4 separate regions of the Homo sapiens genome follow, and regions 1, 3 and 4 are each linked to region 2. The links come from fine-mapping of genetic effects on gene expression. A gene starts in region 2. Each other region holds a variant in brackets. All regions are shown on one strand. Distances are from middle to middle.

Region 1 (4,000 bases), 36 kb after region 2:
TGTTGTTTCAAAAGCAATAGCTGGAAAAAAAAAAAAAAAGCAATAGCTGGAGAATATAAGCTCCCCAAACTTTTGAAGATATAGACATAGACCAAGTAATTTGTAGTCTCTGCCCACCCCCGCCCCAACATTAATTCTATCCGTTGAAATCAGTCCCAATTATTTTTAAAAAATAAAGGCTAATAACCAGTTCTAGTACCCCAAAATGTTTTATGGAACAAGATAGAGAATAAATAAAATGAAATTATAAAATATAAATAAATATTCACATTTTTACAGGTGGAGAGATGGTGCTGGCAGCTTTTTAACTGAGATTAGTTTTCAGGTGTTAAATCAATGTCTCAAGTCAGTAGGAGAAAGTATCTGCTACCAACTTTTTGTATGTTTTTAAATCAATGTGTATTGTTCCTATCATTTTTGTTAGATAAATTCTATTGTAAACATAAAATTCTCTAAAACATTTCTGAAATCTTTGACCATTTTTACTTTAAGTCATTACTTTTTAAAATGGTGCTGTTCTGATTATTAATTCTTATAAACAGGAATTACCTTTTCAACTGGTCTATTCTCTGCATTCCTTCCCCTTGTACCCCAAAGCAGATTATTCTTTAAATATCATCTTTGTTGCAAGGCAGACATTCTTCCTCTAATTTAGAGGAAGGCTATTATTACCTGATGACTGAGACTTCAAAGGCTCTTTGGGGCCATTTGTGGGAATAGGACGGGGAGCTTCTTCATTCCCACCTGACTACCCTCTCACTCCGCCTCCTTCCAGCAGATCTCTGGTCTGGCCTTGTGGCTACTTACAGGGCAGAGATAGGTGTCATAAAAGGAAACATTCCTGCCAAATAAAAGTTCTTTGTTATGTGTGGCTCTGTTTATTATTCCTTCTTTATGGTGCTCTATAGAGTACAGCAGGGATGATTGGGAGCAGAGGCCAAGGCACTCTAGTAGAATTATACCACTGATTAGAAAAGGCAAGGGTGGACACAGAGATAAGAGTAGTACTACAGTTTTCACCGTTAAATGATCTCTTTTTAATTTTTAATATTCAAGCACAGATATCTGCAGAAAATATGATTGTTTTAGATATTCTATGACCCAGCACATGTTCTATCTCTACCTCAGCACCTTCCCTCCTTGGCCATCCCCCATTCTCCCTTGGCTATTACCTGCTCTCTTCCAAGGCTAAGCCCTGCCGAAAGCTACCCTCAGCTCTTTTTACAACTGGAGCATCCTGTGCAAACCTCTGTCAAAGAAATTTCCAATCAGGGTGTAATTCTTTGTGAACTTCTCAGCCTCCCACACTAGCCTGTGAGCAAATGGGGGTCTGGGAGGCCATTCGTCTCTGTCTTTAGTTAGTACGGTACCTGCATAATAGTAATGCTCCTAGGTGATTGCTAAAGAAATGTTCATTACTCATAATAAAGCAAAGAAATAAATAGTCTATGTTGGCTTAAATGGAGACAATGTGTCATGTCAGCCTGTTGTTTTAGTTTTATTTTAACTTTTCTAAGAGGCAACCAAGTCTTGTCTCTCTCTAACTCTTAAATTACAGGTTCTGGAAGGAATAGGGGCTAATGATTTAATGTTGACTCAATTTTAAGCATGATAAATGCTAGCGGTTGGCTAGATAGTAATTTGTAAACTGGATAGCCATTTGAAGTGAAATAACAGGAAGCTGACTGGAGTCAATGAATATTCTTCCAAAAGAAGTACTACAGGTTTAGTCATTGTTCACTTACATTTTTATTCAAGGTTATGTTGTAACGATGACTGGATTTTTCTGTCATTCTGGTGTATTCATTTCTCCCACCTCCCAAATATCTGACTGTTGCCCTTTCTCAGGGAATGTCAGGTTACATATAACATTCATCAAAATTATTTTTTCCTGAAATTGTTTATTTATTGTCTGCTTCCTCCGTTATTTGTACGTTCCATATGGTTGGTGCCTATCAGGTTTACTCCAGAACCGGCAGTGTCTAGTGCATGGTAGATACTCAAGACAAATTTGGACAATATACTGTGAGCCATAGTAATGTGTGTAACTGAGGGACCACTGAATTTTCATAGAGACTTCAGGTTGTGTTTGTACATTTCTTCACACCTTGAATTTGTTAGAAGTCTTATTGATTTCATATCACTTTAACATTAAATGTTATATAGAATCACATTTCACAATTCATGTGCTGTAGTGGAAAAGTGGAGGCCAAAAATACTGTATTGAAATACAGACAAAATAAAATGGTCATGTTTGATAAAGTAAAAAGAACTGAATTCATAATGGACTGCATTTTCAATGAATAGCTCATGGTTTTATAACTTCTGTGCATATTCCCAAGGCTATCTTAACCAACCATGAGTTAACCAGTTTACAGTGACTAGGCATATTTAGTTTTGGCCAAATTATTCTGTCATTGAATTGGTCTGGTGTAGAAGTAG[T/C]TTTTGGCCTACTTGTTTTCAGTTAAACCTTATACTATGGGTGGGTGGAGGAGACATTTATAATGTGTGCTGAGGCAGCTGGGTAATATTGCATTACTCTCCTAGGAATACTGGGGAGTGGTTATTTTTAGCTTTCACCTGAGCAAACATGACTCAGTTTGTTGACCTGAATCTATCCAGCCCCCTCTTGAATACACAAACTCTATTAATCCCTAGAACCACGCAAGTGACTAAGTAAGGCCTTCATTACAAATACCTGTTATTGTGGCTTGTTCAAAGGTTGAAGATGATTTAAACTTCCTCCATTTAGCTCTTTTCTCTTAATCCCACACACTTTAAAAAAATTTACAGACAGATCAAACTTTTTTTGATTCTAGACACAATTTGTGACCCATGTAGCTAAAATTTTGACTATAGCTAATGAAAACACATTCTATGGTAGGTGACCAGCTACCAGCTGTAAGCTTTGCTTTTGGTTTACGTGATAATGCTGTCTATATAAAGAAACACTTGGGAATTCACTTTTAGCTGGAGTAGGACATTGCACTGAGCTGTAAATATATTATTGGGGGAACATTAACTGTCCATGTTTGAATATCAGGATGTCTGTTTACTTTCTCAAGCAATACTTGTGTTTTCTCTTTTGAACACTATTAGAAAAACGGAAAATGTTGAATTATCTTCAGGTTTTGAAGTTATGGAAAGCATTTTTGAGACTCAAGGACTAATTTATTCAAGTGAAAAAAATTGTGATTCTCACAGTATAGCTTGAGATGCACTTGAGGCTTCTCCAAGTTCACTGCCATGATATTTATGAAAATATTAGTATTTCTGGGATTTTTTTTCTTTATAGAAGAAACACTAGACTAATGAGAGGATGAAAATAATGCAGGCCCCTAAAAAGGCAGGCGTTCACTGCATTCATTAAAAATGCGGACTTTGTGACCATAAAGTGTTCAGCTTCTCTGTTATTAAGTTTGGAATGTGGTTTTGGAGCTTAGCTGAGGAACTCAGCTAGTTATTTTTCGTTTTGGCCTGAGAAGTGAGAGACTTGTTTTTCAAGAAGGTAAAAAATAAAGAAAAAAAGGTTAGGTTCATTTTGGAAGAATAGAAGTTTTAAAATGTAGTAACTATTTTCTGCAGCAAATAGTCAGTTTGAGTATGTTAGCCGAAAATAGAATTCATGACTTTTGTCTCACTGTTTATTTCTCCAACCACATTAAAAAGGGTTCAGTTAAATGTGCCATTTGGCTTTTCTAATGTCAGTGGGCTATTTAGCTGAGTCAGGATAACCAAAGTTTGATTGACTCATATTTCTAAGAATAAGTCAGATGTCTGATTTTAGATGGATTAGATGTGAGGTCTTCGTGATACAGTTTTGAGTTTTAAAGAAAAACGTCTGTAGCAGGGGTTAGTGGCAACTTGTATTGCAGTGTTCAGCCTTCTACATGAAGGATGTTCAGCTAGAGCTTAGTAGTGTTGAGTTTTCTGGTAAGTATTAATAGGCATTGTCCTAACTTCTTACAAACATAACATTTTACTAAAAATGTATCATTAA
Region 2 (7,875 bases):
CCTCAGCTTCTCTTCCTGACATTGGCCGTCTATGGGAGGTTTCCCCAAACCCCTGCATAGCCAGGGACTGGAACTTATTCATTCATCTTTTTTTTTTTTTTTTTTAGACGGAGTCTTGCTCTGTCTCCCAGGCTGGAGTGCAGTGGCACGATCTCAGCTAACTGCAAGCTCCGCCTCCCGGATTCACACCATTCTCCTGCCTCAGCCTCCCGAGTAGCTGGGACTACAGGCGCCTGCCACCAAGCACGGCTAATTTTTTGTATATTTAGTAGAGACAGGGTTTCACCGTGTTAGCCAAGATGGTCTCGATCTCCTGACCTCGTGATCCGCCCGCCTCGGCCTCCCAAAGTGCTAGGATTACAGGCGTGAGCCACCGCGCCCGGCTCATTCATCATTATTCATTACAAAAATTTGTGTGCCAAGTCTGCCACGGTACTGGGTGTTGTCTGCATATCACAGGAATCACTGTCCGGGGCAGGTGTTTCTGGGCCTTCCCGGGTTTTCCACCTATTGCCACTCTGCGCGGAGAGAAGCAGATATCGAGGAACTTGTCAGCATGAGAAAGTTCATGGGGAGACGGGGAAGAAGAGCCATCATGACATGAAGGAGCAGTCAGCTCAGCCCCTATTTGGCTTATACCATGAAAACTGGCAAAAAGAAAAAGCCCTTTTCCCCACCTCTGGTGGAGGAACCCAGCACAGGTGATCTCAAAGGCTTAAACACTGGAGGCTTCCCAGCTCTCTGCTGCAGCTTCTTTCAAGCCTGAGAAACAGGGGGCTGGCTGGCTACTTCAAACTGTTGATTGCCTCCCACTAGAGGCCTCTGGAAACCTGTAAAGTTTCTTACCTGCCCTTCCAGGTTGCCTGGGTTCAAAGAGGCAATTTTATAAGAGAGACTATAATTAGGGGTTTTATGGTTTGTTTTGTTTTGTTTTGTTTTGCTCTCTGGGAACAGAATCCTCCTCCCCTATAACATGCCATATTTGTTGAGTATTCACTTTGTGTCAGGCACTGTGCTAGGCATTTTTTATTTTGTTTAATGATCACAACCCATAAGACTGGTATTATTTATTCTTTGCAAGAAATGAGAAAAGTAATTTCCCCACATTTATTTACACAGCTAGCAAGACATAAAGCTGTGACTGAATAAGCCTAATGACTGAAATGTCTGTGGAATGTAAAAGAAAAGGTGAAATGAAGATCTACAGAGGAGGTGGAGATGCAAAACGGGAGTGGGACATGGGGTATTTATTAAGCAATTGAAGATCAGGTTGAAGTATTGGTTTTCTGAATAGTTCCTACCCACAGTTATTGTGTAAAAGGAGGCATTAAGAAAGGTCTTGTATCTCCATACAAAATAAGACAATGGGGTCCGCAGAAAAAGAAGGGAGGGGTGGTTTTGTTTGGGGGAAAAAGAGCATTTTAAAAGAAGTTGTGTGTGTGTGTGTCTATATGTGTGTGTGTATGTGTGTGTGTGTGTGTGGTGAAAAGTGACACTGAATAATAGAGTGTGAACCCACAGTGCTCGCTCACATTCACAGGTACCAATTACCAGAAAATACCAACAACCATGGAGCCATAGGGATGCCATTTATGGATAAAAGCTATTTATGAGAATGAGAAGACTCAGAGTGGGATTATTCCTCTTGTTAGTTTCCTCTGGGAAGTAAATTAGATGTTTCAGGAGATGTATTCAATCTTTTTAGAACTCTACATTACATTTACTGCAATGCCAATAATAATGTGCTGCTCTTGGCTTCCAAAGGAGGCTTTCTCAACTTCAGAATCTAAGCCCTCCTCTGTGCAAGGTGCTGTGCTGGGACTGTGAGGCACACAAAGGCTCAGATCACACTCTCCTTGTGTTGAAGGAATTTGCAAGCCAGTTAGGGTAACAACACATCACATATATAGATACATGTGCAAAATGCAGTCTAGTGTATAGGTGCCAGGTAGGAATATAGTCAGTCAATTATATATAGGAACTGGGGGTGAGGGAGGAGTTATATCTACCTTCAGTTAGATATCCATTTATCCATTCATTCATTCATGAATTCATGCATTCATTCATCTATTCAATACATACGCATGGAACATCACTATGACCTTCCATATCCCAAACACTTTTTTTTTTTTTGAGATGGAATTTTGCCATTGTTGCCCAGGCTGGAGTGCAATGGCGTGATCTCAGCTCACTGCAACCTCCGCCTCCCAGGTTCAAGTGATTCTCCCGCCTCAGCCTCCCGATTACAGGCATGCCTCACCACGCCCGGCTAATTTGTATTTTTAGTAGAGACAGGGTTTCTCCATGTTGGTCAGGCTGGTCTCGAACTCCTGACCTCAGGTAATCCGCCCACCTCAGCCTCCCAAAGTGCTGGGATTACAGGCGTGAGCCACCATGCCCGGCATATCCCAAACACTTTGAATAAAATGATGAATAAATCAGAATACCTAATATAAAGTCTAGTGGAATGGAGTTGAAATGATCAGTTTTTATTGACAGAGTTGGATTTGCCCTTGGATCATTTCAGTCTCTGGGATAATCTACCTAATGACAATGACTCAAAACAAACATTTCCTTGGCAGCTGGAAGTTTTTAGAACAGATGTTTCTATGTTAAAAACCACTGAGTATTGTCAAAGTTCAATTCTAGATGTTGTCCTTATTAACACACTTGTCAAGTAAAGTTAACCACCTAGACTTCTCCTAACATATGCTTCAAACAGTAATCACAATATGATAAAAATTTTAGAGCTGAGCAATAATCAGTCATCAGTTTTACTAGTTTTACTAGTTTTTAAACACAAAATTATTGATTTCCCTTAGTTTCCTAAATATAATAATAAATATTCATATCTTACAAGAATACCATGAAATAGTACTATTATTCCCATTTTACGGAAGGGAAAACTCTTCTGTAAAGAGTGAAGGTTTTACAGAAGCCTCAGAGTTGGTCTGTGAAGCCTCAGAGGTGGTAAGTAACTGCATAATGGCCTATAATCACATGAAACAAGGGGCAGATGGGATCTGGGTTCCAAACCAGATCCAGCTGACTCTAACTGTCATGTTCTTTTCTATTCACCTGTGTTGTCCGCTTGGGAAATAAAGATTCACAGTCACTTTTAATGTTTAAAAAGATGTGATAGAAATTCAATTTTTTTAAAGCAGCCCATGGTGATGAATACTACAGGTGTCTACATCCCACCAAGTTGGGCATTATTGGTAATCTCATGACAGAAGTACTGATTAGCAATTAGAAATATCCCTTTTTAATTAAAATAACTATTTAATAAGTGCTCTTTTAAAGCAGGGGATCATCTTGGTGGAGAACCAGCAACTCATTTACAGATGAGAAAACTGAAACCTAAGGAGTTAGGCTAGTTACTCTGCAGAGATGCATTTCAGAGCAGAGGGGGTGGGGTGTATTGTAGCAGCTCATTAAAAACTAAGTCAAGGAGTTCACTAATCTGAATAAATCACTTCTACCACTCCAGACATTTTTTATGGATCCAGTTTATATTTGAAGTGGACGGGGGCCAGGCGTGGTAGCTCACACCTGTAATCCCAGCACTTTGGGAGCAGAGGTGGGTGGATCACCTGAGGTCAGGAGTTCAAGACCAGCCTAGCCAACATGGCGAAACCCCATTTCTACTAAAAATACAAAAATTAGCTAGATGTGGTGGTGGGCACCTGTAATCCCAGCTACACAGGAGGCTGAGGCAGGAGAATTGCTTGAGCTCAGGAGGCAGAGGTTGCAGTGAGCCAAGATCGTGTCACTGCACTGCAGACTGGGCGACAGAATGAGACTCTGTCTCAAAAACAAACAAACAAATAAATAAACAAAAAACCCACCATTTTTTCTCTACCCTCTTATGCATAGTGCTTGGGGGTCTGTGGACTAAACTGACAAAAGACAGATTAGCAAGGCAAAAGACAAATTTTTGTTCACATATATCAAATGTATGTGGGCATTCATAACCACTCAAGGAGGCAGTTGTTAATAGAATTTGGAGCTTATATTCTATCTTAATAGGAGAAGAAGTGTATTTATGAGAAAACAAATGACTTTTAGGAAAGATAAATGGGCCCTTAGGAGTGCTGGGCTCAGAACATGATACCCCAAGGTATCTGAGTACTTTGAACTGAAGGACATTGGAAGGACAACAATTCTGTCTACTTCATCCTTTCTGATAGTACCTGGTGTTTGCCAAAGTAGAGGTAATTAATTACTATTCAGTGAATAACATTTGGACTGGGGGGGGGTTCCTCTGGGGCAGGTGCAAGTACTTTGACATCTTGGTATCCTTGAGTGCTTAAGAAAGAAAGCCTGGAACATGTTAAAGGCTCAATAAGTGACTTGGATAAAGAGTTGAATGAGAGAATAGATAAACAGCAACCACAGTCATGCATTGCTTAATGATGGGAATACCTTCTGAGAATGTGTTGTTAGGTGATTTGTCATTGTGCAAATGTCATAGAGGGCACTTACATAAACCTAGGTAGCATAGCCTACTACAGACCTAGGCTACACCGTGTAGCTGATTGCTCCTAGACTACAAACCTGTCTGGCATGTTACTGTACTGAACACTGTAGACAACTGTAATGCAATAGTAAGCACTCTGTGTATCTAAACATATCTATAGAAAAGGTGTTGTAAGAATATGGTATTATAACCTTATAGGACTACTGTCACACACACGGTCTGTTGTTGACTGAAACATCCTTATGTGACACATAATGATGTGTATATCCTCAGAACTGTTAAGAACTATTAGATGTTGAAGAGATGGAGTTTTGTATGCATAAAGTTTGGTGCTTGTCCTTGACAAGTCTCTGTTCTATTTGGAGATTAGAAATGAATGCTTCTATTAAGTGTAACCTGCATGACATCTTTTATAAGGGCAATGAAAATTCAGGAACAGAGTAGAGGAGGAGAGAGGACTGGGAAAAATAGTCTCTTGGCATGAAGAGGGTGTGTAAGGATGGGAGGGACAAGAAACAAGATGTGTGGGTGGTGGTGGTAGAAACTGCACGTTTGGGGAGCAGGGTGGGGTATTTACCAAACCAAGGGTCTATTGAGTAAGGTGAGTTGTACTGGCCAAGCGGCCAGTTTATGAAACATGGAAAAACCAGGCCCAGAAATTTAGGCTTGATAGAGCAGGAAATCTCTATCGGGAGCCCCGCCCCTCTTTTTATGGAAGTTAAGTATAAATATAAATATATGATTTCTCACAAAGAGACAACAAACATTGTAACTTAATATAGGTACCCTCTAAACCAACTAAGATCTCTTTAGACCTTTGAAATACAAACTGTGGGCTTGCTTTCACATTCACTTATTCATTCCACAAAAGATTATGGGGCACCTACTAGAGCTAGCATTTTGTTAGGCACCATGGGGGGTACAAAGAACAAAAAAAACTTGGTCCCTATTCCCCAGGAGTTTACAGCTCAGTGGTGGAGACAAACGTGTACACAAATCCTTACAATAGGAGGTAAAAATGTAAATACAGGATTGTAGGGGCTCAGTTCCCAGAGATACTGCATGGAGGTGGTGTGGAAAATTAGAAAGATTTTTTAACACTAGTTGGTTTTGGATCAGGTTTAACATTGATGGAGTAGAACATGTTCTCTTTAAGGCAATAACCAGGGTTAAGGCTGTGGAAGCACATGTGCTGGAGTAACGAACAGTGGTCTGATTTGGCTGGAGAGCAAGTTTCCTCAAGGGGCGCCGTGGGGAATTTAGCTGGGTATGTGCCCAATAACCGAGGCTGGGAATCTGGTAGAAAGAAGTCGAGCTGAGACTTTATTCCGCATCTCTGTGTTTTGACTTAGGCATCTATTGGGTCCTTTTAAAAAAAATTCTCCTCCTCTTTCCTAAAGAGAGTTCTAGCAGTTGGGGGTGGGGTGGGGACCATTTCCTAAAGTCAACGCGTAAGTTAAAGGTCTGCAAGGCGGTCCACCGGTGATTTAAATCTCGCACTTCGGAAACCAGAAAAGGAAACCTGTGAGAAGCTGGGCAGGGGGAACCCGCTTAACATCAACAGCAACCCCTAAATGGCATCAGACCTTGGAGAGACAGGTTGCAGGCCAGACTCGGGAGCCAGGCGCCAGCACCCGCCAGAGCTCTGAGCCCCGAACTGGTGGGCAAGGGGTAGAGGAAGAGAGGGAGGGAGGGAGGGAGGAAGCGCGAGAGGGAGGGAGGAAGAAAGGGAGGGAGGCGGCGTCATGTGATCCGCTTCCCTGCTCCTTTAAGCGTCCACAGGCGGCGGAGCGGCCACAATCACAGCTCCGGGCATTGGGGGAACCCGAGCCGGCTGCGCCGGGGGAATCCGTGCGGGCGCCTTCCGTCCCGGTCCCATCCTCGCCGCGCTCCAGCACCTCTGAAGTTTTGCAGCGCCCAGAAAGGAGGCGAGGAAGGAGGGAGTGTGTGAGAGGAGGGAGCAAAAAGCTCACCCTAAAACATTTATTTCAAGGAGAAAAGAAAAAGGGGGGGCGCAAAAATGGCTGGGGCAATTATAGAAAACATGAGCACCAAGAAGCTGTGCATTGTTGGTGGGATTCTGCTCGTGTTCCAAATCATCGCCTTTCTGGTGGGAGGCTTGATTGGTAAGTGCGGAGAGCTGCAAACTTTTCCCCCTTTCTGTCTTTTCGGGCCCCTTCCCTCTTTGCCTCTTGGGCTACTTGTTACAGTATCACTGCCTTGCTTCTATGATCTAATTAGTCCGGCTATTGTGCTTAAGAAAGCAGAGCTCCATGGGGCTCCGTGGGGCACAATCCAGTCTAGTGGCTAAGAGAAAAGGAGGGGAAAAAGTTTTGGCCTAGTTTCAGTATCCACTTGAAAGGCAAGAGGGGGGCGGCGGGGGTGGGAATCTTAAGCATGGCGACGGATCGCGCGAGGAAGCGCTGGGTTACAAAGTTGATTGCTCGCCCCCCCCCCCCCCCGCTTTTTCCCGCGTTCCCCCCCTTTTCCTCTCGGTTCCCTTCCAATCAGCTCCGGGAGGGCAACGTAATCGACTTTATTAGGAACAACAGAAGAGTCGGGGAACTGTGCCCGGCGCAAACCCGGAGCTCTGTTACAAGGCTGAGATACTTGCACGGTTGTAAATGCATTTGGTCGTCTTTGCTAGGGGCTGAGGGTTTGCAATTTGGGGTCCCGACCTTCGCGCCCTCTGCTTTCCCGCCGCACTCCACCCCACGCTCTGCCGTGGACAGGTCCGAATTGTCGGCCGGGAGGTTGGGTGGGATGGGGTGGGGTGGGAGGGAGTCCTTGACCAGCGCCGCGGGAAGTTGGAGAGGTCGGAGGGGAAAAGCGTATCCGAAAGGTGTTGCTTTTGGCCTCCTGCCCACTCGTGAATATCCCTTCCCCCACTACTTAGAGCCCCGAGAGCCGGTGACTGTGAATGTCCCCGTCCTCTTTTGGCGCTTAGGAGAGCGCCCTCAGCTCCCACCACAGCCCCCCGCAGGTGACAGCTCGCCGGCCTCCTCGGCGACAGCGCCCGCCCCGGGAGACCTCCCCTGGCGTGCACCTCCCGGACCTCTCTGAGTCAAACAGGCTTCCGGGTGAAGAAAACCGCCTCACGGACCGTCCACTCGGAAAAACTCCCTTCCCCTCACTGTCTCCCCATCTGCATCCATCCTCCCGCCTCTCTGCACACTCGCGCCCCCCGCCCCCTCAAGATTTGGGACATCCCGGCACAAACTTCAATGCCAACTTTGCAGCGGGCGCGGACGGGAGGTTCGGTTTCCTTACTTCACGGCTTTGTTAAACTTTGCGGAGTGGGGAGTCCACGGAGGGGCTTTCTCCGCGCGTGCCTTTACGGGCGCCCACGCGATGTGGGGTGCGGGGAAAACGCCCGGGGGCGCCGGCGGCGTCGC
Region 3 (8,664 bases), 120 kb before region 2:
AATACAGAAAAGCATTGTCAAGGTGCTATTTTTATAAATTGCTGCGGGACAGATATCCAAATTGCAAGTACATCTTCTACCATTCTAAATTCTGAGATGTAGCCTTACTCCAGTACTTTCTTGTCTCCAAACAAACTATAAGAAATGGTGTCTTTGTACAGTGTTTCTACTCCACGAATACCTTTTCTTGACCTATTTCCAACTGCATAACTGCTACTTCAAGACTAAGGGACCAACTTCTCTGTAAAGCCATGCAGAATCTCACTCTCTATCTAAGCAGCTTTGATCTCTCCTTTCTCTCTGATTCCAGACACAGCATCATGGACCTGCTTTGGAACAGTACTTATCTAATTGTTATATATATATATATATATATATATATATATATATATATAGCATATATATGACATATAAATATATATGTCTGATATATGTATCTCATTGTCATATGTGTAAAATATATATGACATATAAAAATATATATTCATTTACTTATTTTCTCTAATGATACAATTTCTCTTCCCTGTATTGCTGATCATTTTTCTTTTAGACATTTTCTAAAATACCAATACAAATATGCCATTGCTGACTGTTTGCATTTCATTTGTCTAAGTAAATTTACAGGAAGCTAGATGTGGCTATCAGGTACAGGAAGAACTAGAAGATGGGCCACAGGGAAGAGAAGGATTTGCACTGGAGGCCCTTGCAATAGTACACGTCTAAGGTGTAGAGGACTTGAATAAGAATGAGAATGGAAAAAAGGAATAAAGAAAAGATGCAAGAGATGTTGTGGAGAAAGAAGGGTGAGAGACATATACAGAAGAGTAGACAAAATGAGTTTTTAGATGAAGGGACATTTCTGATAATATGACTACATATGTCTTTTTTTTTCTTCGTTAAAACTGGAAGAAACAGTGATTTTTTTTTCTTTTTTTAAATTCCTTTTTTTCTTTCTTGATATGCCTATATAAACATTAAGTGAAACCCCTTCTGGTTTAACACACCAAAAAATGCTTATGAAAAGTTTTTTAAAGTAACAAAATGTTTTATGTATGACTGAGCTGTTGGGAAGGGATATAATTATTCAGGGGAGTCCAAGGATACACAAATATAAGTTAGTACCAAAGCCAATCTTTTCCTTGAAGGTACTTGCTGATTCTTGGTCCCTGGTGGCCTGAAATTTGGGTTATTAAGGGGCCACTGACAACAAACAGGAGACAAAGGCCAAAATCAATGCAGAGTGGGAAGTCAGCTCAGTGTCAGGACCACAAAAGGGTCATAGCCCCAATGGTAAACTGGAAACAACCTCTCTCTATAGACACAGGCATAGAGACACTCGTTTCTCAGCTTTGTGTGAAAAAAGAAAACATAAATAAAAAATAAAAATAAATGGCTCCCCTGAAAATTCTTCACACAAACCTACATTCTCATAATGTGAGGGTCAAAATCCAAACTGCCCTTTTAATTGAAAACCCCAACTCAAATGTAATTTGACTGATTCCTACTTGGCAGTATTCCAAGAAATGGGGCTTAAAATATCAAATATACTCTAGAGAAAGTCACTTCAAGCACGGGCTTAAAGAATTCTCAGAGACAAAGTTCCAAGACCACAATAAAATAAATTATCAGAGAAGGAAACAAACTACAATAAGTGAGAGTTGGCAGTCAGAACAAACATCAGAATATGACTGCAGAGACTAGATTTGGGAATAATCAGACCCAAAATAATAGATGTGTATGTCTAGTATATTTTTTTAAATTGAAGAGTAGTGAAAAATAAGACACTAGCATAATAGACTATTAGAATCCGCCAGCTAGATATAAAACTGAGCCAAATAGAGATTCTAGAAATTGAAAAAATCACAATTAAAAAACAGGAAATTAGACTCAGCAGTGGAGAGATTTAGTGAACTGGAAAATGGAGATTTAAAAAAAAAGAATTAGCAAAGCACTGCCAGATAGACAAAAGGAAAATATGAAATAGAGGTTAAGACACATGAAGGAGACAGTGAGAAAGTCTGCCATTCTCAATCAATTGGTTTAAAAAAAAATCTGAAGGAAACATGAACTATATCAACTGCAAAATGTAGGTACACTTCAAAAGCTGCCCCCTGCTAGGCAGAATATTAATATTAAAAGAGCATGGATAATCTTTGAGTCCCAAAGCTGAGAGGAAAGGCTGCCAACTTTAGGCAAAATATTGATGAAAGGGAAAATCTGACCATCCTTCTCTCCTTCCCTTTCAAACTGATAGTGCCATATTAATATAACTCCAAAAAAAGGGAGCTGAGTCCTAAAGGCCACAAGCCTAAGGATGAACTTGAAACAGGGCCATGGACAGGGAACAGTAAGTCACTTGTGTTCAACAGCACCGATTTTTGTTCTTTCTCCCTGCTGATATAACCCAGCTGGAGTAAGCTAGAAAACTAATAAATCCCCTTCCCTCCTCTTCAGAAGTGGCCAAATATCTGCCTCTAAAAAAAGTCAGAGAACCCCACCCTGTATCTTCTGGGTGTGGACATTCCTCTGCAGAAATAATCACGCTACAGAACAGAAGTCAGCAAGCCTTTTCCATAAAGGATCAGATAGTAAAGGTTTTAGACTTATAGGCCCTATGATCTGTATTGCAACTACTGAACTCTGCCATTATAGTGCAAAAGCAGCCACAGACAAAGAAAAAATAAATAATCATAGCTATGTCCCAACAAAACTTTACTTACGAAAATAGGTGGTAGGCTGCAGTTTGCTAACCCCTGCTGTAAAAGATTACCTAGGAGTACAAATGCTGGCAGCATTCGAGAACAGGAACTGTTCTAAAATAATATTTTAATAATCACTCATTTTAAAACACACTGTTATAATAATTGAGAGAAAATGTGCTATAGTATTCGAACATAGTGATAGTGTAAAGGTCTGGGAAATCTGACCCAGTGAAGCCACAGCCGCCCAATTCATACAACATCCACATGGTGATGCAGATCATACAGACAGAGTGAAATGACTCTGTCCAGGGGCACTACGTGGGATGAAAATGTCATTATTTTCACATAGTGAAAGTCATTTACTCCTGAACTAGAGATGCCCCAAAGCACAGACTGAGGAGAAATTCAAGAAGAAAGCATAGCATTAGAAAGCAGATGGCGTTGAAGGAAGTTTACCAAAGGACCCTTCCCTTTTAATTCTGTGCCTGTGGATTCTCCAGTAAGTTAGAATCCCATCATTTTAAAAATTATAAATACAATATATTACTTTCTTTTGCCATTTTGAACAGAATAAGTACTTGATAAATTCTCACTTTTGCTGGGAGAATTAGGAAATATATAAGATTTTTACATAATAAAATTTGTTTCTGGCTTTGGCTAAATTTTTCATCAATGTAAAATAATAGCTAATATTACTGATTGTTTACTGTGTCCAGGCACTCTTCTAAACACTCTACATATGTTATCTTACTAAAGCCTTGTAACTTAACAAGGTGGGCAACTAGACAGATTTGCAAGGTATGTGTTTGACCAGTGACAGCCACTGAAAATGTTAATTTGCTTTCCTCACTACCCCCCTACTCCAAAATGTCCTAGATCAAGTTCAATGAAGAACTTGCCAGAGTGGGACCAAAGGAAAAAATCAGAGTAAACTAAGAACAGTTCGTCTTCCCTACCTCCATTCTCTTGCTAGGAGAAAGGTAAAATTAAGATGAGCTAAAGAACAGGAAGAGATCTTTTGGGGTCAGATTCAAGTTCCTGGATGTGAAGAGCATGTTGCATGAACCCTGACTCCTGGTTTGGGGGAATCCATTAGACAGCCATACTACAGTGGTACAGTGGCACCACAGGAACAGGAGACTGGCATCTTGCTTACCAGCTTCTGGTCTGCTTAGTCTCAGGGTTTCCTAACAAAACTTAGGGAAAAGCATTTTGGAAGGAAGGGATGGGTATTGGCAGAAGAGGGCAAGGCTTAGCCGCAAAGCTACTCTCGCCACATACACACCATGTCTCCTGAGAGGTATAAACAATTGGATCACAATAGGGACATCAAAAGATGGGTAGGGATGGAAGGGAAGGCTTGTGCCAAATCGACCGCATGCATCAGAGGCACATGCATGGGAGTTGTAAGTAAGATGGCTTCAGATGGAAGATGCATCGTAAAACTTCACAGAAACCGCAGATGCCTAGACAGTGGCTCAGGGCCATGTTCATCACCATCCAAATCTATAGGTCCCCCACATCAGGAGATATTGATGAAATTGATGGATGGTGATGATCAGCTTTGGAATGTGCAGCAAACTAGCCATCACCAACATACAGGTAGCCAAAAGAAACCTGCTTCCCTAACACCAAATCTACTTTCCTCCCTCCAGATACAGTGAAAGGAGAGAGGAAAACATTCCACATCCTTTTCTTCCATAAGTAGCTCCCAAGTGAATGTGTGTGTCAGTTCAGATCCTCCTGGAAGCAGATACCAAGGCAGAATTAGATCTGCAAATGATGAATTGGGGTAAATGACTATGAATAATAAAGGAAAAGGAACAGGAGTAGGAGGGAAGGGGCTTCAGACCATGATGCTCATCTGCGACCTATGAAAAGAAAGAGGAAGGGAAGAAAAGTGGTAAGGCAAAGCTCCAGACTGTGATGCAGATCTGAGAGTCTTGACCAGGTCAACAAGGCACCCCAGAGCAAAGTTATCCCATTAGAGGAATCCCATTTTGGACAAGAATGGCTAAGCTCTAGTACCCCTGCCATGCTCAGTTACTGTCTGAGAGCAGCCCAGAGACCATATAGCCTCATCACGCTCACTTCAATGGACCCCAAACCTGCAGCATCTAGAGGCTGTCAACTGACTCTTCTCTTTGCAGAGTGTTCCCACTTCAAGGAAAATAACAGCAGCATACACCAATAGCTGCCACAGGATCTGTTCAGTTTATCCTGGGATGGCTGTATAGGCTTCAAACTTTGACATTA[G/A]AGTGAAATTATAAGGATTTTTCTCCAAGCCAGGGTTAATAATAAGATCAGTCACAACCTATTCCCATTCAGCAAGTTATAGAAAATAATAGAATGCCTGGTTCATCTGTTCTACGTCAATCGATTTTCACATTCACGTCCTCCTGCCTCTTTCGCATTCCTACCATTCAACCACGTTTGTCCCATCAACACCCACTCTGGGAATCAAGACCTCTTTCAGACAGACAGCAATGCAGATAAATTATCATTTGGACATTGCTTTTCGTAGTTGAAAAAATGCTTTGTGAATTCTTTTGACTGGTTTCTGTCTTAACTATCTCATTCATGTTAAAAGAATAAAAATGTAGTCAAGAAACAGATATCACCCCTAGTTTGTGATAGATCCCAAACCAAGCACACAGTGATATGAATTCTGGAATACTGTTATTTGACTTAATCATGGAGGCCAGACGAGGTTTAATCAAAAAAATGGCCCAAAGTTGAGATCTGAAAAGGGGAAGAAAGATCATTCCGGGCAGAAGAATCAACTTATGCAGTGGCCCTCAGTGACTTTAGAGTGTAGACTTTAGTGTCACTGAGATGAAGGAGATGGGTGAGAGTCAAACTTTCTTAGGAGTTTTCATTATTCTAAGAGTAACTTTGGGGTTTTAATAGGAGGACTGGAATAAAGGGACATTATATGGTCAGATTTGTACTTTGAAAAAAATCCCTCTGGATGAAGAATGGAAAACAGATGGGAGAATGGATGAGGAGCTCAGAGAAGGTTAGGTGTAATATTATTTTAGTAGTAGTAGCAGTTCAAGTGAGAGATGTGGCTATCTTGAACTAGAGTGTGGATATGGAATAAAAATTAGATCATTTCAAAATATGATTAAATGACAAAATATCCAAAATTCAGTGGTGAATTAGATATGGAAACTGAAAAATTAAGGTGTCAAGATAACTCCTAAATTTCTAGTTGGCACAACTGGATGGATGATAATTGCAATCACTAAAATAATAAATACCAAGAGAGAATCAAGTTGGAACAAGGCTATAAGTTCAGAATTGAACAGTTTACCAGTTAGGAATCTTTTAGTTGAAAGTGATTAAAAAGCCCAACTCAATCTAGCTTAAACAAAGAAGGGAAGTTATTGGCTAATGTAATTGTAAAATATACAAAAAGGGCTGACTTCAGCAGTGGCCTCATTCTGGAATAAAATGATGCCTCCAGGAGCCATTCCTTAGTTCTGTGTCCAGAGTTGGTTCCTGTTGGTGGGTTCATGGTCTCACTGACTTCAAGAATGAAGTTGCGGACCTTCACGGTGAGTGTTACAGCTCTTAAAGATGACACAGACCCAAAGAGTGAGCAGCAGCAAGATTTATTGTGAAGAGCGAAAGAACAAAGCTTCTACAGCATGGAAGGGGACCCGAACAGGTTGTTGCTGCTGGCTGGGGTGACCAGCTTTTATTCCCTTATTGGCCCCGCCCATGTTCCATTTCTGTCCTATCAGAGTGCCCTTTTTTCAATACTCCCTGCATTTGGCTACTTTTAGGATCTTGCTGATCGGTGCATTTTACAGAGTGTTGATTGGTGCATTTTACAGAGTGCTGATTGTTGCATTTTACAATCCTCTTGCTAGCTACAGAGCACGGATTGGTGCATTTTACAATCCTCTTGCTAGCTACAGAACACTGTTTGGTATGTTTTTACAGAGCGCTGATTGATGCATTTTACAATCCCCTTGCGAGCTACAGAGTGCTGATTGGTGCATTTTACAATTCTAGCTACAGAGTGCTGATTGGTGCGTTTTACAATCCTCTTGTAAGACAGGAATGTTCTCCAAGTTACCAACCCAAATGTCCATCAATGATACACTGGATTAACAAAATGTAGCACATATACACCATGGAATACTATGCAGCCATAAAAAAGGATGAGTTCATGTCCTTTGTAGGGACATGGATGTAGCTGGAAATCATCATTCTGAGCAAACTATCACAAGGACAAAACTAAACACCGCATGTTCTCACTCATAGGTGGGAATTGAACAATGAGAACACTTGGACACAGGGTGGGGAACATCACACACCGGGGCCTGTTGTGGGGTGGGGGGAGGGGGAAGGGATAGCATTAGGAGATATACCTAATGTAAATGACGAGTTAATAGGTGCAGCACACCAACATGGCACATGTATACATATGTAACAAATCTGCACATTGTGCACATGTACTCTAGAACTTAAAGTATAATAATAATAATTTTTTTAAAAGTTCTCCAAGTCCCCACTTGGCCCAGGAAGTCCAGCTGGCTTCACTTCTCAGTTCTACTTCCTCTATGTTGGTTGCATTCTCAGACTTTGCAAGGTGGCTTCCGGTGGCAGCAGGCTCACATCATCACAAGAACTAGTTCAGTGAAAGAGGAAAGTCTCTTCTCAAAATGTCAAACAAAAAAATGCAAAACCAAATATCCTCAGCATTTATAGTCTCAATTTGGGTATATGCTCAATCCTGAACTATTCACTGTGGTGATGAAATATGCTAATTATACCCCGGACCCTGAACTTAAGGCATTTTCAAAAAGAAGTTTATGGATGAGGGCTGGGCGCAGTGGCTCACACCTGTAATCCCAGCACTTTGGGAGGTTAAGGCAGGCGGATCACGAGGTCAGGAGTTCGAGACCAGCCTGGCCAACATGGTGAAATCCCGTCTCTACTAAAAATATATATATACAAAAATTAGCCGGGCGCAGTGGCAGGCACCTGTAATCCCAGTTACTCGGGAGGCTGAGGCAGGAGAAGTGCTTGAGCCCGAGAGCAGGAGGTTGCAGTGAGCCGAGACCACACCATTGCACTCCAGCCTGGGTGACAGAGCGAGACCCTGTCTAAAAAAAAAAAAAAAAAAAAAAAAAAAAAAAAAAAAAGAAAAAGAAAAAAAAAAGTTTATGGATGAAAGTGGAGGAGGATTACATATCCCAACAAAGAATCAGCTACCATTGCCACAAAAAGGATAAATGGATATTGGGCAGCAAAAACAACATAAAATTATCTCTTACAGCTGAACACAATTTCTGAGATTAACAACAGGCTCAATGTGGTGGACATTTAAGAAGATGAAATCCTCATTGATAAAGATGGGGTACTTGAAATGAGCTCCGAGCACTGGCAGAGGTCAAGACTATGGGCTACCAGTAACAACCTGCTTGACACAAAAACACAGACTGCATGGGGCAAAAGCAACATCAGACACATTCAAGAAAATCTGTTTTCTCATGAAGGTTCTCTGGAAAGTCCAACAGATGAATTGCTATAAAACAATCAGAATTGATTTTTTTTTTTTACTTATATTTCATTCACATTACATGATGTGGATTGAGTTAGTCTTAGTTTTTTCATTGTGTTACGGACTCCTCCAGGTATTAATAGAGATATGTAATGACTCTGGCATCTATATGCAGCCTTCTTTATCTCCTGGTGTTTTAGCCAGACCTATTTCTGCCTGAGAAGACTTAATGGTACACAAGAAACCTTTTGGGGGCTCTCGGTATGAATGAAAGTGAAAAATAAATTCCACTAGGGGGTGCTAAGCCTCAAAATAAAAACACAAAACAAGTATCTTTGATTTTCCCATACCTTTCAACAATCATTGAACAACTGTCTTAATCTGGATTCTCCAGAAAGCAGTGCCTGAGACAAAGTTTACGTGCTACTACTTTATTATAGGATG
Region 4 (8,664 bases), 20 kb before region 2:
GCCGAGGCGGGTGGATCACCTGAGGTCAGGAGTTCGAGACCAGCCTGGCCAACATGGCGAAACCCTGTCTCTACTAAAAATACACAAAATTAGCTGGGTGTGGTGGTGGGTGCCTGAAATCCCAGCTACTTGGGAGGCTGAGGCAGGAGAATTGCTTGAACCTGGGAGGTGGAGGTTGCAGTGAGCAGAGATTGTGCCACTGCACTCCAGCCTGGGCGACAGAGCGAGACTCTGTCTCAAAAAAATAAATAAAATAAAATAAAATAAAATATCCATACTGCCCAAAGCAATCTACAGATTCAGTGCCATCCCTATCAAAATACCAGCAACAATTCTTCACAGATATAGAAAAACAATCCTAAAATTCATATGGAAATAACAAAAGATCCCCAATAGCTAAAGCAATCCTGAGCAAAATAAACAAAGTTGGAGGCGTCGCACTATCTAATTTCTAATTGTGCTATAAAGCTATAGTAACCAAAGCAGCATAGAATTGGCATTAAAACAGACACATAGACCAATATAACAGAATAGAGAATCCAGAAATAAATCCACACTTACAGTTAACTCATTTTCAACAAAGGCACCAAGGACATACATTCAGGAAAAGATAGTCTCTTTAATAAATGGTGTGCAGAGAACTAGACATCCATATACAGAAGAATAAAATTAGATTCCCATCTTCTACCATATACAAAAATCAACACAAAATAGACTAAAAACATAAATGTAAGACCTGAAACTACAAAAGTACTAGAAGAAAACATTGGGGAAACAATATAGAACATTGATCTGTACAAAGATATTTTGGGTAAGACCTCAAAAGCATAGGTAACAAAAGCAAAAATAGACAAATGGGATTACATCAAGCCAAAATGCTCTGCACAGCAAAGGAAACAATTGACAAAGTGAGGAGAAACCTACAGAATGGGAGAAAATACTTGCATACTACCCATCCAACAAGGAATTAACAAGAATATATAAGGGACTCAAACAACTCAATAGCAAAAAAACAAATAATCAAATAATCCAATTTAAAAGTGACCTAAATAGACATTTCAAAAGACCTAAATAGACTTTTCTCAAAAGAAAGCATACAAATTACCAATGGGTATATGAAAAAATGCTCAACATCACTAATCATCAGAGAAAATGCAAATCAAAAACACAATGAGATATAATATCATCCCAGTTAAAATGGCTATTATTAAAAAGACAAAAAATAACAAATCTTTATGAGGATTCCACAAAAGAGAACAGCTGTACACTATTGTTGGGAATGTAAAGTAGCACAGCCATTATGGAAAATGGTATGAAGGTTTGTCAAAGAATTAAGAATAAAACTATCATATTGTCCAGCAATCCCAAGGCGAGGTATATATCCAAAAGAAAGGAAACCAGTATATTGCACAGATATCTGCATTCCCATGTGTATTTCAGCACTATTCACAATAGCCAAGATATGGAATCAACCTAAGTGTCCATTATTGAATGAGTGGATATAGAAAATGTTACATATACACAATGGAATATTAGCCATAAAAAAGAAGAGTCCTATTTGCAACAACATGGCTGGAGGTCATCATGTTAAATGAAATAAGCCAGGCACATACACACAAATATCACATATTCTCACTCATATACAGGAGCTAAAATAATGGATTTCAAGGAGGTTGAGAGTAGAATGGTGCTGACCAAGGGCCTGTAAGGAAACCAGTGGAGATGAAGAGAAGTTGGTTAATAAGCACCAAAATACTGTTAGGTAGAAGGAATAGGTTATGGTATTTGATATACAGTAGGGAAATTATAGTTAATAATCAGTATTGTATATTTCAAAATAGGTAGATGGGAAGAATTGTAATGTTTCAAATAAAAAGAGAAGATAAATATTTGAGGTGGTGGACACCCCGTTTGCCCTGATTGATAATTACACATTACATATGTGTATCAAAATATCACATGTACCCCAAGATATGTATAACTACGATACCTCAATAAAAAGTACCAAAAATTTTAGACAGCATGTTTACAAAGGAGATGTGGTGTACATACTGTATATTATGTAACATCCCCAGCAGAGTCTGAGGTAGCATTTTAAAATCTAAAGCATTGTATCAGCTAGCTATTACCTCAATAATTCATCATAACAAAACACTCCAAAACTCGATGGCTTACAAAAGCAACCATGTTTTTCTTATTTCATAGCTCTGTGGGGATGCTGTTCTGTATTTCTTCTCATTCTTTCAGGATCACTGATTCCCTGGGGCAGGCCTTCTCATGGTGAATAATGGGAAGGCCAAAGACCCAAAAAACTCAAATCTCATCAGCACATTTAATGCCTCTGCTCTCATCAGCTCCCCTCACATTCCATTGGCCAAAGCCAGTCATATGACTAAGTCCAGCTGTAGCAGGACCAGCCGCAGGCAAAACTCCTCAGACACCGAGTTAAAGAAAGAAGGGGTTTATTCGGCCAGGGGCATCAGCAAGACTCCTGTCTCAAGAGCTGAGCTCCCCAAGCGAGCAATTCCTGTCCCTTTTAAGGGCTCACAACTCTAAGGGGGTGTGCGTGAGAGGGTCATGATTGATTGAGCAAGCAGGGGGTATGTGACTGGGGGCTGCATGCACCGGTAATTAGATTGGAACAAAACAGGATAGGGATTTTCACAGTGCTTTTCTGTACAATGTCTGTAATCTATAGATAACGTAACCAATTAGGTCAGGGGTCAATTTATAACTACCAGGCCCAGGGTGTGGCACCAGGCTGTCTGCTTGCAGATTTCATTTCTGCCTTTAGTTTTTACTTTTTCTTTCTTTGGAGGCAGAAATTGGGCATAAGACAATATGAGAGGTGGTTTCCTCCCTTACAACGTTAGGGAAATATATTTCTTCCCATGAGGGAGAAGGTAGGTGAAGTGTTGCTATAAAATACTCAAATTAATATACTAACATTTCTTCAGTAAAACATATGAATATCTCTGCATTCAGTGGGATAAATACAAATTATAAATAACCCCAAGATAGTTTGGTTTTCAGAACCTTTTGGATTTTATATTTGAGATGAAAATCTCCATCAAGCCCTTGTGATCCTTCCTCTCTTGTCCTTTTACTCTGTAATTCCTACTCCTGAGACCAAGGGCTTCAGTAAGGATGGCGTTCCCTCTGCTTAAGGCCGCCAAAAGCTACTGTTGCTACATGTCTCCTAATGTCCTTCAAGGCATATATGTCATACACTTCTTTTGTTACCCTCACAGAACCTAACAGAAGCTCCGGATCCATAGGAAACCCATAAGAGAAATGCTTATTCAATTGGATTATAACATCAGTGAAGCCTGTAGACCCAATGCAAGCCAAGCATGAAAAGGTGTGAGGATGCCAAGGCTTAAGGACATTTTCTGTCATTCAGTTCTTGCATCTCATCCACTCCTACTCCATAAGTGTTCTCTTCTTAAAGAATATCTTAACAGTTTGCAGCTGTGTTAATCAAACTTCCCATTGTCTCTTTATTACATAACTCACACTTTCACATTTTTAAACAAAATGAGATAGTTACTTTGACTTCAACAATAGTCTCCTAAAATAAAGGGGGGAAGAGTTGGCATTAGAGTTATACTAACATCTAAGGCCAAGTAATTAGTGACTCCACTATTTTTCTATTCCCTTAACTATCTGAGAATCATGTATCTAAGAAGATTTGAAGTACGGCTGTGGATTTGTGTTTAAAGTGGAACATTGCCCAATAACAGTGCTGTCTACTATATATTTTTCCCTAACTCTTCTGGCCTAAAGTGTAATTAAAATAGAGAGCTATTACAACCGAATGGTTATTACTTGTTTCATATTACAGTAGGTTGGTTGATGTCTTCTTCAGAAATAAATAACTCAACTTCACCTGGAGGACTTTTCCGATGTCCCAATGTGATCCTTGAGTGACGAAATCATGGTTTCTTAAGTTTTGGAAGGAAGATGAAATAAACCCAAAGATTATGAAAGAAGAACAATAGAAAATTGCTGAATCACCAGCAACTGAACCAAACAAAAGAGTTTAAATAAATAATTTATTTTTAAACCTACATCATAAAAAATGACAAATCAAAGATAAATAAATCAATAGAAGCTTTGTAGGTCTCAAAGGAGATTTCTGGGCATATTTCTGGGACTTTATAAGTTGACGCAAATTCTCTATCACTTTTTAAAATTAGCTGGTTTATTTTATTACAGCAGCAATAAGGTTCAAAATTTTAAAATAAACAAAATAAGAAAGCATAAATTAAAACATCAAATTTCCCTACCTTCTATCTTTTCCTTCTCTGTAACCACGGACGTAACCTCTGGTAACATTTTCTTC[C/T]ATTTATAGCCATTGAGAATATTTCACTTTCAGTGTTTATATTAATTTGCTCAGGCTGCCATAACAAAATACCTCAGTCTGGGTGGCTTAAACAGCAGAAATTTATTTTCTCACAGTTCTGGAGGCTAATAGTCCAAGGTCAAGATGTCAGCAGGTTGAGTTTCTTCTGAGACCTCTCTCCTTGGCTTGCAGTTGGCTGCCTTATTTCTAAGCCCTCACATTGATTTTCTCTGTTTGCTCACATCCTTGGTGTGCCTCCAGTGTCTTAATCTCCTCTTCTTTACAAGGACACCAGTTGGATTGGATAAGGACCCACACTAACAGTCTCATCTTAATTTAACAACCTCTTTAAAAGCTTTATTTCCACATACAGTCACATTTTCAGGTGCGGAGAGTGAGGGTTTTCACATACAAATTTTAGGAAAAGACTGCTCAGCCCATAACACTATCTTAAAAAGCAAAGCAATGCTACAGCAAAATGATGAAATTCCTGTAGACATATCTTTGAACACTTTTGCAGGCATATGGGTAAGATAAATTTCAATTTGGGGGTCAAAGAGTATGCTCAGCAATAATTTGGATAGATGTTGATAAATTTCCTACAAAAGGTTTGTAATAATTTATTCTATCAACAATATATAGACCTGCATAGTTCCCTTCAGCTTTGGGCTTACATAACCTTTTAATATTCTTAATTGGATAAAAAAATACACTTTGTTCTTCAGTTTATGTATTTTAAAATATTATATGGTTAAGTATCTTTTCAGGTGTGAATTGCGCACTCATATTTTTTCCATAAACTCCTTTGCCCACTTTTTTTCTATTGGGTTATATATCTTTGTTTCTGTTTTTGTTTTGGAGACAGGGTTTCACTCTGCCACCCAGATAGAGTGCAATGGTGCAATCATGGCTCACTGTAGCTTCAGACTTCGAAGCTCAAACGGTCCTCCTGCTTCAGCCTCCCCAGTACCTCAGACTACAGGTACATGCCACCACTCCCAGTTAATTTTTGAATTTTTCTTTTGTAGAGGCCATAGGGTCTGGCTATGTTGACCAGGCTGGTTTCAAACTCCTGGCCTCAAGGAATGCTCCAGCCTCAGCCTCTCAAAGTGCTGGGATTACAGGTTTGAGCCACCATGCTCAGCCTTACCTTTTATTTACTTATTTGGAAGAATTTTTTTTATATTAAGGTGCCTTGTCGTATTTGTTGCAAATATTTTTTCCCAATATGTGCTTGTCTTCTATTTGACCTTTTTTCACGGCAGAGTGTTAAAATTGATAGAAATTGAAAATGTTAAGATTAAAATGTAGATATTAATCTTTTTCTTTTGGCTTGAGGACTTTGAAATAAGTTTAGAAAGGCATTTCCTATACCAAGTTTATGTTTGGATTAGTATTATTCATGTTCTTGCTTATTATTTTGGGATTTCTTTTATTCACATCTTAATAGAGAAGAAGGAAGGGTAAAATCCAGGTTTATGTTTTTCAAATGTTCAATCAGTATTACCAACATTATTTATTTAATAATTTATATTTTTCTCATTTATTAAAAATGTGACTTTTATCATTTTATTATTAAACTCAGATAATTACTCCAGATTATTTATGGATTTGTTCATCTATCTCATTGATCTTTTTTGTTTATTTGTGGTCAGAAAGAAAGTTCAGATACTTTAAAGCAACACTTTATCTGATGTACTCAACCCACCTCATGATTCTTCTCTTTTCAAATATTTTCCTACGTGTTTATTTTGTCATATAAATTTTAGCATCATTTCATTCAAATTTCAAAAATCTTCAAAAAACTTTGTTTATATTTTTGATAGGAATTGCTTTATAGTTTAGATTAATTCAAAAATAACTCTTTCAAAATATTGATTCATCAGATGGAAACCATCATTCTCAGCAAATTATCACAAGAACAGAAAATCAAACACCGCATGTTCTCACTCATAAGTGGGAGTTGAACAAGGAGAACACATGGACACAAGGGAAGGGAACACCACACATCCAGACATCTGGGCCTGTTGGGGGGTGGGGGGCTAGGGGAGGGATAGCATTAGAAGAAATGCCTAACGTAGATGACGGGTTGATAGGTGCAGCAAACCACCATAGCACGTGTATACCTATGTAACAAAACTGCACATTTTGCACGTGTACCCCAGAACTTAAAGTAAAAAAAAAAATTGTATGCAGAGAAGTAACATAGGAACATAAACTTTAGAAAAATGTTACTAATCAGATAACTTTGAATAAACCACTTAATCCCACTAAAAAATAGATAGGTAGGTAGGTAGATAGACAGATATAGATAGATAGATGATAGATATAGATAGATAGATAGATAGATAGATAGATAGATGATAGATAGATAGATAGATAGATAGATAGATAGATAGATAGATTCATCTATCCAAACAAAAGATGTCTTTTCATTTAACTCATTTTTAAAAATTTTGACTCAGTGAAATTTTAAATTTTCATGCTTTCTTATTAGATTCATTCCTAGAATAGTTATTGTGAATGAGATATTCTTCTCCATTCTACTTTCTAGCAGATAATCATTATTCTAAAGTAAAGTACTGGACTTTTTTTTTTTTTTTTTTTTTGAGATGGAGTCTCACTCAGTCGCCCAGGCTGGAGTGCAGTGGCGCAATCTTGGCTCACTGCAACCTCCACCTCCCAGGTTCAAGCAATTCTCCTGTCTCAGTCCCCCAAGTAACCAGGACTACAGGTGCGCACCACCACGCCCGGCTAATTTTTTGTAGTTTTAGTAGAGGTGGGGTTTCACCATGTTGGCCTGGCTGGTCTCAAACTCCTGACCTCACATGATCCACCTGCCTCAGTCTCCCAAAGTGCTGGGATTACAGGCATGAGGCACCACATCCAGCCAAGTAATTGACTTTTAATTATTGTGATTAGCTTTATTATTGCTTGAATTATTTTTATTTGAATTTTTAGATTTATAATTGTATCAATCACACATAATTCTAAGTTTGTTTCCTTCTTGTTTCTCTTTTTATTCTCTTCTTCAGTTGCAATGGCTAGCATCTCCAAAATAAATATCAAATAATAATGGTGATTTCAATTCTAGATTGTACTAGAGAAATTCACCAATACAATAAAGCAAGCAAACAAAATGAAAGCTATAAAGTTTGGAAACAGAAGTAAAATTATTATTGTTCATATATGACATGATTGTTTATGTAAAAAAATTGAAAAAATCTACAAACAAATTATAAGAATACATTTATTTTGTAAGGTCAGTGGATAGAAGGTTGATATAGAAAATCAATTTTATTTATATGTACTACACAACTAGAAAATAAAAAAAATTTAATACTTTTTATAATAGCACTGGAATTTTCTGTGTTTGGGTATAAAAGTAATAAAAGTAGTACAATATCTCTTCCTTAAAAATAATAAAATATAGGCTGGGTGCAGCATCTCATGACTGTAATTCCAGCACTTTGGGAGGCTGAGGCAGGAGTATCACTTGAGGTCAGAATTTCGAGACCAGCCTGGGCAACACAGCCAGACCCCACCTCAAAAAAAATAATATATATATATTTTTTAAGTTAGCTGGGAGTGGTGGCTCATACCTGAATTCCTAGCTACAGGGTAGGCTTAGGCAAGGTAATCACCTGAGCCCAGGAGATTGTGACTGCAGAGAGCTATGATTGTGCCACTTCACTCCAGCCTGGGTGACAGAGTGAGACCTTGTCTCAAAAAAGAAAAGATAAAATATGGCCAAGAAAAATTTCTAAAAGACCCTTTTAAATCAAATGGAAGAAATCACATGTTTATTGATTGTAAGCTCAATAAACTTGCAATCTTGATGCCTGTTCCTGAAAAACACCATTAAAAAAAAAAACAAAAACGGAAAAGACAGATCACAGACCAAGAGATGATATTTTCAATACAAATCTTGAAAAAGTATCTGCGTCCAGAATATATAAAGAACTTCTACAAATAAGTAAAGACAAAAATGGTGATCAATTTAAAAAATAGAAAAAAGACTTGGACAGACATTTTACAAAAGAGGATATCTCAATGAACAAAAGGCAACAGCATAGTCATCACAGAATACATATTGAAACTCTAATCATATACCCATATATCCCCACCAGAATGGCTAAAATTAAAAAGACTGACACTGCTAAGTGTTGATGAAGATGTGGAACAATTGGAACTTGATTTGCTAGTGTAAATGTATGTTGGCATATCTACTTTGGAAAATTATTACAGTACAGTAACATTAAATACACCCATATTTCTGTAGCCCAGCAATTCTTCTTTTGCATAGATATTTAACACAA

Direction of the effects. Positions count from the first base shown, and alleles are read on the strand shown. Sizes are in standard deviations (SD) of each study's normalised expression. Not every link is listed here.
For the expression in transverse colon of the gene that starts at base 6,277 in region 2, T is the low allele of the variant in region 1 and C is the other (large effect, 0.86 SD a copy in CEDAR).
For the expression in sigmoid colon of the gene that starts at base 6,277 in region 2, T is the low allele of the variant in region 4 and C is the other (moderate effect, 0.45 SD a copy in GTEx).

What was found. PIP is the estimated chance that this variant, and not a neighbour inherited with it, causes the effect. A credible set is the group of variants that fine-mapping cannot tell apart.
Region 1: its variant is the best candidate, but not a certain one, in a credible set for the expression of WLS in transverse colon (CEDAR, PIP 0.55).
Region 3: its variant is the best candidate, but not a certain one, in a credible set for the expression of WLS in blood mononuclear cells (TOPMed, PIP 0.71).
Region 4: its variant is the best candidate, but not a certain one, in a credible set for the expression of WLS in sigmoid colon (GTEx, PIP 0.85).

What each region holds. Positions count from the first base shown.
Region 1 is chr1:68,196,607-68,200,606 of GRCh38, reverse strand. All of the region lies in intron 1 of WLS (Wnt ligand secretion mediator), which reads left to right. The region is part of intron 9 of GNG12-AS1 (GNG12, DIRAS3 and WLS antisense RNA 1); the gene reads right to left. Among named protein-coding and RNA genes, the nearest start is that of MIR1262, 15 kb to the right of the region's middle. RefSeq lists an enhancer at 462-963. The variant T/C (reference allele first, on the strand shown) is at 2,443.
Region 2 is chr1:68,230,925-68,238,799 of GRCh38, reverse strand. It overlaps WLS (Wnt ligand secretion mediator), which reads left to right and starts at 6,277. Exons shown (of 12, transcript NM_024911.7): 1 at 6,277-6,606. The coding sequence starts at 6,501.
Region 3 is chr1:68,346,239-68,354,902 of GRCh38, reverse strand. No RefSeq gene overlaps it. Among named protein-coding and RNA genes, the nearest start is that of RPE65, 99 kb to the left of the region's middle. The variant G/A (reference allele first, on the strand shown) is at 4,959.
Region 4 is chr1:68,250,757-68,259,420 of GRCh38, reverse strand. No RefSeq gene overlaps it. Among named protein-coding and RNA genes, the nearest start is that of WLS, 23 kb to the right of the region's middle. The variant C/T (reference allele first, on the strand shown) is at 4,346.